Regions from separate parts of the Homo sapiens genome. Here regions 1 and 2 are each linked to region 3. Evidence: fine-mapped QTL for protein levels in blood plasma. A gene starts in region 3. Each other region holds a variant in brackets. All regions are shown on one strand. Distances are from middle to middle. Region 1 overlaps NCKAP1 (NCK associated protein 1). Region 2 overlaps NCKAP1 (NCK associated protein 1). Region 3 holds the start of FRZB (frizzled related protein).

What was found. A credible set is the group of variants that fine-mapping cannot tell apart. PIP is the chance, under the fine-mapping model, that this variant and not a neighbour inherited with it causes the effect. Protein levels are from the aptamer-based SomaScan assay of Sun 2018.
Region 1: its variant is the best candidate, but not a certain one, in a credible set for the plasma level of the FRZB protein (Sun 2018, PIP 0.57).
Region 2: its variant is the best candidate, but not a certain one, in a credible set for the plasma level of the FRZB protein (Sun 2018, PIP 0.78).

The regions. Positions count from the first base shown.
Region 1 is chr2:182,927,475-182,930,237 of GRCh38, reverse strand. It overlaps NCKAP1 (NCK associated protein 1), which reads left to right. Exons shown (of 31, transcript NM_013436.5): 28 at 1,339-1,455; 29 at 2,012-2,121. Among named protein-coding and RNA genes, the nearest start is that of FRZB, 62 kb to the right of the region's middle. The variant A/G (reference allele first, on the strand shown) is at 1,583.
Region 2 is chr2:182,932,139-182,934,901 of GRCh38, reverse strand. It overlaps NCKAP1 (NCK associated protein 1), which reads left to right. Exons shown (of 31, transcript NM_013436.5): 26 at 70-150. Among named protein-coding and RNA genes, the nearest start is that of FRZB, 67 kb to the right of the region's middle. The variant T/AAT (reference allele first, on the strand shown) is at 1,513.
Region 3 is chr2:182,865,154-182,867,916 of GRCh38, reverse strand. FRZB (frizzled related protein) reads left to right here and starts at 1,280. Exons shown (of 6, transcript NM_001463.4): 1 at 1,280-1,842. The coding sequence starts at 1,365. RefSeq lists an enhancer at 1,149-2,117.

The sequences.
Region 1 (2,763 bases), 62 kb before region 3:
TGGGCAAAAGGCTGAGTAGTGAGTAAGGGAGATTAAGGGAGAACAGGAGGAAAGGATTTGGAGATAACTAGAAGACAACTCAAAGAGTTCTATTGTAAAGGGAAGCAAAGAAATAAAATCTCACCAGCTGGAGGCAAGAGCAAAGTCAAGAGAAGGATTTTTTTAAGATGGAGGAGATTACAGCATTTGTATGCTAATGGGAGATGGTCCAGTAGATAGCAAAAAATTGAGATCTAGGAAAGGGTATTCTGTTTTTATTGTACTAGAGTTATTCACCATCAAGAGTTTTATATAAAACATTTAGAAATTTTTAAGACCAGCCCTTAGAAATGCAGTACTCAGAATCCTGTAGATATTTCTTGATTTGTCTACAAAGTAAATATAGCATTTCATCTCTTTCTACTACTAAAATGCCCCTTCTGCCTCCTTGAGGCAGCAGCATGGTGTTTGAGTTCATCAGTTTTTTTTTTTTTTTCATTTAACAATGCAATTTTGTTTCCTCATTCATACAGTATGTTACATTTAGTCACATGGATAATTATAATTATTACTTGATTTGCTACAGCTGTATTTTTTGTAGTCGACCAAATCTTTAAAACATATTTCAGCTCTTTTCTTACATTCAATTCTTAATTATATCTAATGGTGATTAGTAGCCTAAATAACCCACAATTTGAGTGCATATCACAATAAATGTTTTAGAAAGGGTTATGTCTTGAAAGCTTTAGAGCAATGCTGGGTATTTTTATTCATGACTAGTTTCTTCTGTCTTCTTCTGTCTTCTTTTATTCATGACTAGTTTCTTCTGTCTTCTAAAATAGAGAGGTTGAAAACCCATTCCACTTTCCACATTTATGTCTTTTAAATAGTAAATTTCAAATTATATTCATATCTCTTTCAAAAAGTAATTAAGATTTTTTTGGTGATTTTGCAGAATAATTTATAAGTTTTCTAAATTGTAAATAGAACTGTCTCATAAAGTAATAATTCCTCATTAGTTTTCAATTAGGAAATTGTAGGATTGCAGTTATCCTAACTGTATTTTTTGTTCTATAATCTTACAATTAAAAAAAATAAAATCTTACCTTACTGTTTTATCAGACGTCCTTGAAATATGCCTAAGTAGTTGATAATAGTCCATTGTAATATAAACTGTTTCTACTTTATATTTTTATAACAAAATTGTGACCAATTCTATAGAATGCTAGTAAAATAGTTTACTATTTCAAAAAAAAAAGTAAACCATTTTTAAAATAAAAATCTGTTTAGTTTAGATTATCAAATCTTAACTAATCTTGAAGAAATACCTTGATTTTATTCTTAATTTTTGTCTCTTAGAAAACATTAGTCCAGAAGAAGAGTATAAAATTGCCTGCCTTCTCATGGTGTTTGTGGCAGTTTCTTTGCCAACACTGGCCAGTAATGTGATGTCTCAGTACAGCCCTGCTATAGAAGGTAATAGTGGTTTAAAATTGTTTTGGCGATGAATAAATCATGGGTTTTGGTATTTTATAATAAAATATGAGTTAAGTTCTGCCACTAACTGGCAGTGGAACATGGGGTAGTCTGTTTCCCTTTTCCT[A/G]AACTGCAGTTTCCTGATATATGAAATGTGTGTAAGTAAGCTCATGTGTGCCTGAATGTGTGTAGAGGTCGGTGAGGGATTATCCAACTCATAGGATTATTTTAAGGATTGAATGGTAAAATGTTGTAAAGCAGCTAAGCACTTCCTTTTTATTTCCGAGCTACTATAAAACTGATGTGTGATTTCTTTTAGATGTTTTCAGAAGTGTTTGCCTGTTTAACATATACACGATCGTTTGTTACTCTCCTGTTAAACTAGTTTTAAAAACATCAGTGTTCATGAAAGTCAAAGGAGAGCAAGTCCGGTCATGTCCCAACTCTACTCTTAATTATGCCCCTATTTATGCAGATTGTGAAGTCATTAAAGATTTGCCTTCTATGTATTATTTGCTATTTTGGGGTCTACACAACCCTATTTGCATTTTCTCAGGGCATTGCAACAACATACATTGCTTGGCCAAAGCCATCAACCAGATTGCTGCAGCTTTGTTTACAATTCACAAAGGAAGCATTGAAGACCGTCTTAAAGAATTTCTGGCGGTATGTATAATCAAATAACAAAACTCATCACATTTTATAAAGAAAACTAAAATTCACAACCACAAAATGTAAGAATAAATTCTCTTTATTTTTACATTTTATTTAGTGTCCTCTAATGGCATTTTGTTTTCAAATTATTTTCTCAGGTATATGAATTTCAGTCTCCTTTTATTTTTATTTGTTTATTTTCTTTTTTGGAGGGAGAAACAGGTGAAGGTGGGGCATTAAAATCGAGGAGCCGTCCGTTATTTCCCTTAGACTCGGAAGTCTCTTTCCCAACTCTAGAGCTCTGCAATATGACCTTTTTTCCCCAAGCTGATGTTTGGACTGCCCTAGAAATTTTCCTAGGCTTGAAAGAGAAAAAAAGCAAAGGAAAATTGAGGCCAAGAGAGAAGCTATTCCCTCTAAAAAGACATATTTTACTTTTTTCCATTTCTTTGGAGAAAGACAATTAATGGTGAAAAATTCATCATTAAAAATACTACTCACTACCAAGAGAGAGGAGTGCTAAATGTAGCCTCATGAAACATGGTTTTTAGTTTCTCTATCAATGTAGTTCTTTCTTTTCTTTATTAATATAACCTTTTCCATATTTTATTTAAACGAAAGATATACCATGGCATACTGAACTCTAGAACATTT
Region 2 (2,763 bases), 67 kb before region 3:
TAATATTTTGTAAATTTAGGGGTTGCCATTTAAAAATAATTCTGTATTCTTATTTGTTATCCTGCCTAGGTCTTATCCTACCACATTCCTTTTCTTGTAAGTTCAATTGAAGATTTTAAGGATCACATTCCAAGGGAAACTGATATGAAGGTAATAATATAATTTATAGTTGGGGTTTACAGTCTCTAAAGCGAAATATTTAAATTACATATGCAAGAAAATGTAATAAATCCTAAACTACTGTAAGGTTTCTAGTTTAGAGTGGTTAGTTAGCATGCTTGCCTTTGTAATTGAATCTTTGAGAGCTCAGCACCAAAATACTACCTAGGCATTTTGAAAGTCAGTCTTCTTTGATCACCTATAGCAATGCAAAATTGACTAAAAATAGATTTTTTTTTTCCTTAAATGGATAGCTGTTTATACATGGTGATAAAGAAAATTAAGAAAGATGAGGTGGCCAGGCACGGTGGCTCACGCCTGTAATCCCAGCACTTTGGGAGGCCGAGGCTGGCAGATCACGAGGTCAGGAGATCAAGACCATCCTGGCTAACTCGGTGAAACCCCATCTCTACTAAAAATACAAAAAAAAAAAAAAAATTAGCCAGGCGTGGTGGCGGGTGCCTGTAGTCCCAGCTACTCGGGAGGCTGAGACAGGAGAATGGTGTGAACCTGGGAGGCGGAGCGTGTAGCGAGCTGAGACCTTGCCACTACACTCTAGCCTGGGCAACAGAATGAGACTCCGTCTCAAAAAAAAAAGAAAGATGAAGCAATGAAATAATAGTCGTTTTAAATACAATGAAATTCAATAAGTTTAAGATAGATGTTAAGTCATTTCTTATAAAAGGATGTAATTGTAGGCTGTAATTTTAAAAAGATTTTTAGTATTCTATTATATGTAATATATATATAAAACAGCAGGTTGGCAGACTTCTGTGAGCTTACAGTTTTTGTTTTGAAAATCTATTGAGCCATGAAATCCAACTATTGATCTAATCCTAGTAATGATTGACCAGTGGTTATACATCTAGTAAGTGATATATCGGGGTTTACATTTGTGTTTTCTAAGCTGACACATTTCTTAGAGAGATTGTTTCTGTTTCACATATCTTGAAAAACACCGACTGAAAAAAATAGTGTCTAAACTCCTTTGTATGACACCAAGACTCTTCTGAAATTGGTGCCACTCAGGCTGGGCATGGTGGCTCAAGACTCTAATCCCAGCACTTTGGGAGGCCGAGGTGGGCAGATCACCTGAGCAAGGTGGGTGGATCACTTGAGGTCAGGAGTTCGAGACCAGCCCGACCAACATGAAGAAACCCCATCTCTACTAAAAATACAAAATTAGCCAGGCGTGACAGTGCATGCCTATAATCCCAGCTACTCGGGAGGGTGAGGCAGGAGAATCTCTTGAACCCAGGAGGTGCAGGTTGTGGTGAGCTGAGATTGCGCCACTGCACTCCAGCCTGGGCAACAGGAGCAAAACTCCCGTCTCCAAAAAAAAAAAAAAAAAAA[T/AAT]GTGGTGCCACTCAAACTTTTTGAGGCTTATCTTCTGCCACTTCTTTCTTCCTTCTCTCACTCTCTTTCTTACTCTGTCCCTCTTTTTATATGGTATTCTGTGAGCTAACTAGATCTTTCTGTTGCATTCTCACATCTATCTGTTTTACCTTCTAATTTATTCTACTTGAAAATACCAACCTTTTCTCTTTCTGCCTTTTGAAATCCTGCCTGTATTTTAAGGCTTGATTCAATTGCCATTTTCTAAGAACCATTCCTAGATTCTCCAATGATAAAGAACTTCTTCTTTCTTAGTGTTATCAGAGAACTTGTTTATCTCCTGTGGAGTTGAATATAATCTGCCTTGTATTATAATTCTATTTTTCTACTTATATTTATACCAAATGGTATATATCTTGAAGACCCAGACTTTGTTTTTTTGGTGTTGTTGCTGTTGTTTCTCTTACAGTGTTTTGTGCAGAATAAACATTTGAGATCAGTGATTGTCTTGTGATTCTATGATTGAAAACTATGTACAAATAGCTCAAAATGATTTCCTAAGTGGAAACACTGCAGAAAAAATAAAGTTAAGGAGACAAAAACTAATCAGTTCTTGAGAAGACACTGATGTGCAGAATTATAAGAATTCTAATTAATATTCTGAGCAACCATTCACTTTTCACCTGACATAATCATGTTTAGTTTCCAGCAAACTTTCAATAGAACTTAACTTTTAAAAAAAAAAACAACAAAAAACAAAAACATGTTTTTAAACAGCTTTATTGAGTTATAACGCACCTATCAGAAAATTTACTCATTTAAAATGCACAATTCAGTGGTTTTTAGTGTAGTGACAGAGTTGTTCAACCATCACTAAAGTCAGTTTTAGAACATTTTCATCATCCCCAAAAAGAAGCCTTGTACCCATTAGCAGTCACTCCCCATTCCACTTCTCCCCCATCCCCAGCCCTAGGCAACGACTAATCTACTTTCTGTTTAAATTAGCCTACTTTGGACACTTACATAAATCATCATGTGTAGTCTTCTGATACTGGCTTCTTTCACTTGGCATATTTTCAGGATTCATACATATTACAGCATATATCAGTACTTTTTTTAATGATTGTTGAATAATGTTTCATTGTATGGGTATACAACATTTTGTTTATTCACATCAATTGATGGACATCTGGGTTGTTTTCACTTCTTAGCTATTAGAAACACTGCTACTGTGAACATCCGTGTACAAGTTTTTAATGTGTGAACGTGTAT
Region 3 (2,763 bases):
AAAAAAGTCCAAGTGTATTAGAGCTGTTAGTTTCCACGTTAACCCTTAAGGAGCAAAGCTCAAGAGTTCTAATTCCACTAGGTGGGGGGGGCGGGAATAGAAGGAAAAAACCCCTTTTCCTTGCTTCTGGTGGCCTATTTGTAGTCATGAACAGCATTTCTTTGTTTCTCTCTCTCTTTTTTTTTTTTTTTAAAGGCAATCCTCCCCCCACCTCCTCCCCCGCAGTTATTGAAAATGGAGACCTCTGTAGTCACTAGCTCTGGGTTGATATGGCTCCACCGTTGCTCGCAGGGGTCTGTGTTTTCCGCTACTTGGACAAAGTGACATTGCTTAAGCCTTTCCCCCCACCAGGTCTGACTTTCTGCAGAGCCAGTGATTGCAGAGGAAAAGCTGTAGTTTGCTTAAAGGAAATACCTCCAGGAAGGAGGGTCTCGGGTGGGTTCCCAAGTGGGGAACTAGGGGGACTTTTCCGTAGGGAATTGGGGTGGGCTCTTCAGTGAGGGGCTAGGGGCTCGTTTCTGGGGCCAAAGACGGGTTCCCTAGTGTGAGGGCGCGCTCGACTCGGCGCTGTCTTGGGGTCTCGCACTCGCACGGCTTCGCACCCCACCGCCTGCGACTCCCAGGCCTTCTCTTCCCCGGGCGCCCACTCCATTCTCGGGAAGAGCAGCCGGCACTGGAGGGCAGAGACTGCCCCAGGGGCGGAGCTCCCTCTCAGGCGGGAGGTAGGAAAGTGCAGAGCCGCCCGGGCAGAGGCACAGACGTCCCTGCGGGGCTCCTCCTGAGCGTCCCTCCTGCCAGCCAGGGTCGCAGCCGCAGCGGCGGCCGCAGCTCTTAGCCCACACAGGACTTGTAAACTCTTACTGCACCCTTCTCTCCCATTAGGAGCTTTTCCTCCCTCCTTCCCCCCAACCCCTCTGTCCTCCTCACTTTGGGGAATTTAATGCTTTCTTTAGCATCTTTTTGTGTGCGTGATCTAGGGGAGGAGACACCCCAGAGCTCCAACTAGCTCTCAGCTGAATTCTACTTTTGTTTTTATGTCTTCCTCGCCTCCTCTCGTGTCCCTCTTATCTGACTGATCTGCGAAGTCTGATGCTTCTGCCAGAGGGAGAGGAATAAATAGATGTTGCTGCTTCCGAAGGCTTAGACGTTGGGAAAGAGCAGCCTGGGCGGCAGGGGCGGTGGCTGGAGCTCGGTAAAGCTCGTGGGACCCCATTGGGGGAATTTGATCCAAGGAAGCGGTGATTGCCGGGGGAGGAGAAGCTCCCAGATCCTTGTGTCCACTTGCAGCGGGGGAGGCGGAGACGGCGGAGCGGGCCTTTTGGCGTCCACTGCGCGGCTGCACCCTGCCCCATCCTGCCGGGATCATGGTCTGCGGCAGCCCGGGAGGGATGCTGCTGCTGCGGGCCGGGCTGCTTGCCCTGGCTGCTCTCTGCCTGCTCCGGGTGCCCGGGGCTCGGGCTGCAGCCTGTGAGCCCGTCCGCATCCCCCTGTGCAAGTCCCTGCCCTGGAACATGACTAAGATGCCCAACCACCTGCACCACAGCACTCAGGCCAACGCCATCCTGGCCATCGAGCAGTTCGAAGGTCTGCTGGGCACCCACTGCAGCCCCGATCTGCTCTTCTTCCTCTGTGCCATGTACGCGCCCATCTGCACCATTGACTTCCAGCACGAGCCCATCAAGCCCTGTAAGTCTGTGTGCGAGCGGGCCCGGCAGGGCTGTGAGCCCATACTCATCAAGTACCGCCACTCGTGGCCGGAGAACCTGGCCTGCGAGGAGCTGCCAGTGTACGACAGGGGCGTGTGCATCTCTCCCGAGGCCATCGTTACTGCGGACGGAGCTGGTGAGTTTTGACACGGCCCACCCTTCCCTTACCCTACAGCCTCCTCAATTCTTGGAGTCCTTGTTACTAGCCTTTACTCTCTAATTTTTTTCTCTTCGGATCACTTAATCTCTCCCATAACTGCTCCTCTATCAAAGACCCTTCTTCTTCTTTCTTCTTTTTTCAAAAACAAAAACAAAAAAACCCTCACCTTATCACCTTCCAAACTGATGCACTCTGGCACTGTGTTCCAATAGGCGATCTTTCTAAAACAATCCATGCATTCCAAACCCATCACACTTCTACTCCACAGGAATCCTTCACTTCAACTCCTTACATGTGCAAGTAGCCACATTTTGTAAAGTGATGCTCTTTTTCTTTTAAAATGTGTTTATAATCATTGGGTTTTCTTTGCTGATTCTCAGGCAATCTCAGTCATCAGGTTTCTGTATCTTTAGTGTCTTAGATGCTTGTTAAGATTGTGTGGAGGAAACAGAAAACTGAAGCCCCATTTTCTTCTAATTAAAAATGCCAAGATAATTTCAATAACCTTACTCTAACCGACAGATGTTAGGGGTATGTGTTTGCTCAAGATCCAGTTTGAGCAATTACCTTCACCTTAAATTTCCCCCTCCTTTCAATGAGATAAATTGTTCTTCCATTCCAGAATGAAACAATTGTGAAACATTGCTATGCACTGTTAATTAGCTTCTGTGGCTTGCCATAGAGCTGGCAGACTGAAATTACTGAGCTCTTTTCACATGCCCACATGCCTTCAAGTCATTTTATAAGTGGCATACAGATGAAAGGAGTTATATTTAAGGCGTGTTATCATACACTCACGTAATGTTATTTTAAATCTCACCCCTTATTCCACTCTCATGTTTTGAAAAAAAAATTGTCTTTAATACCTTATTTCATGCTCCTTTTCCGTGTGTGCAC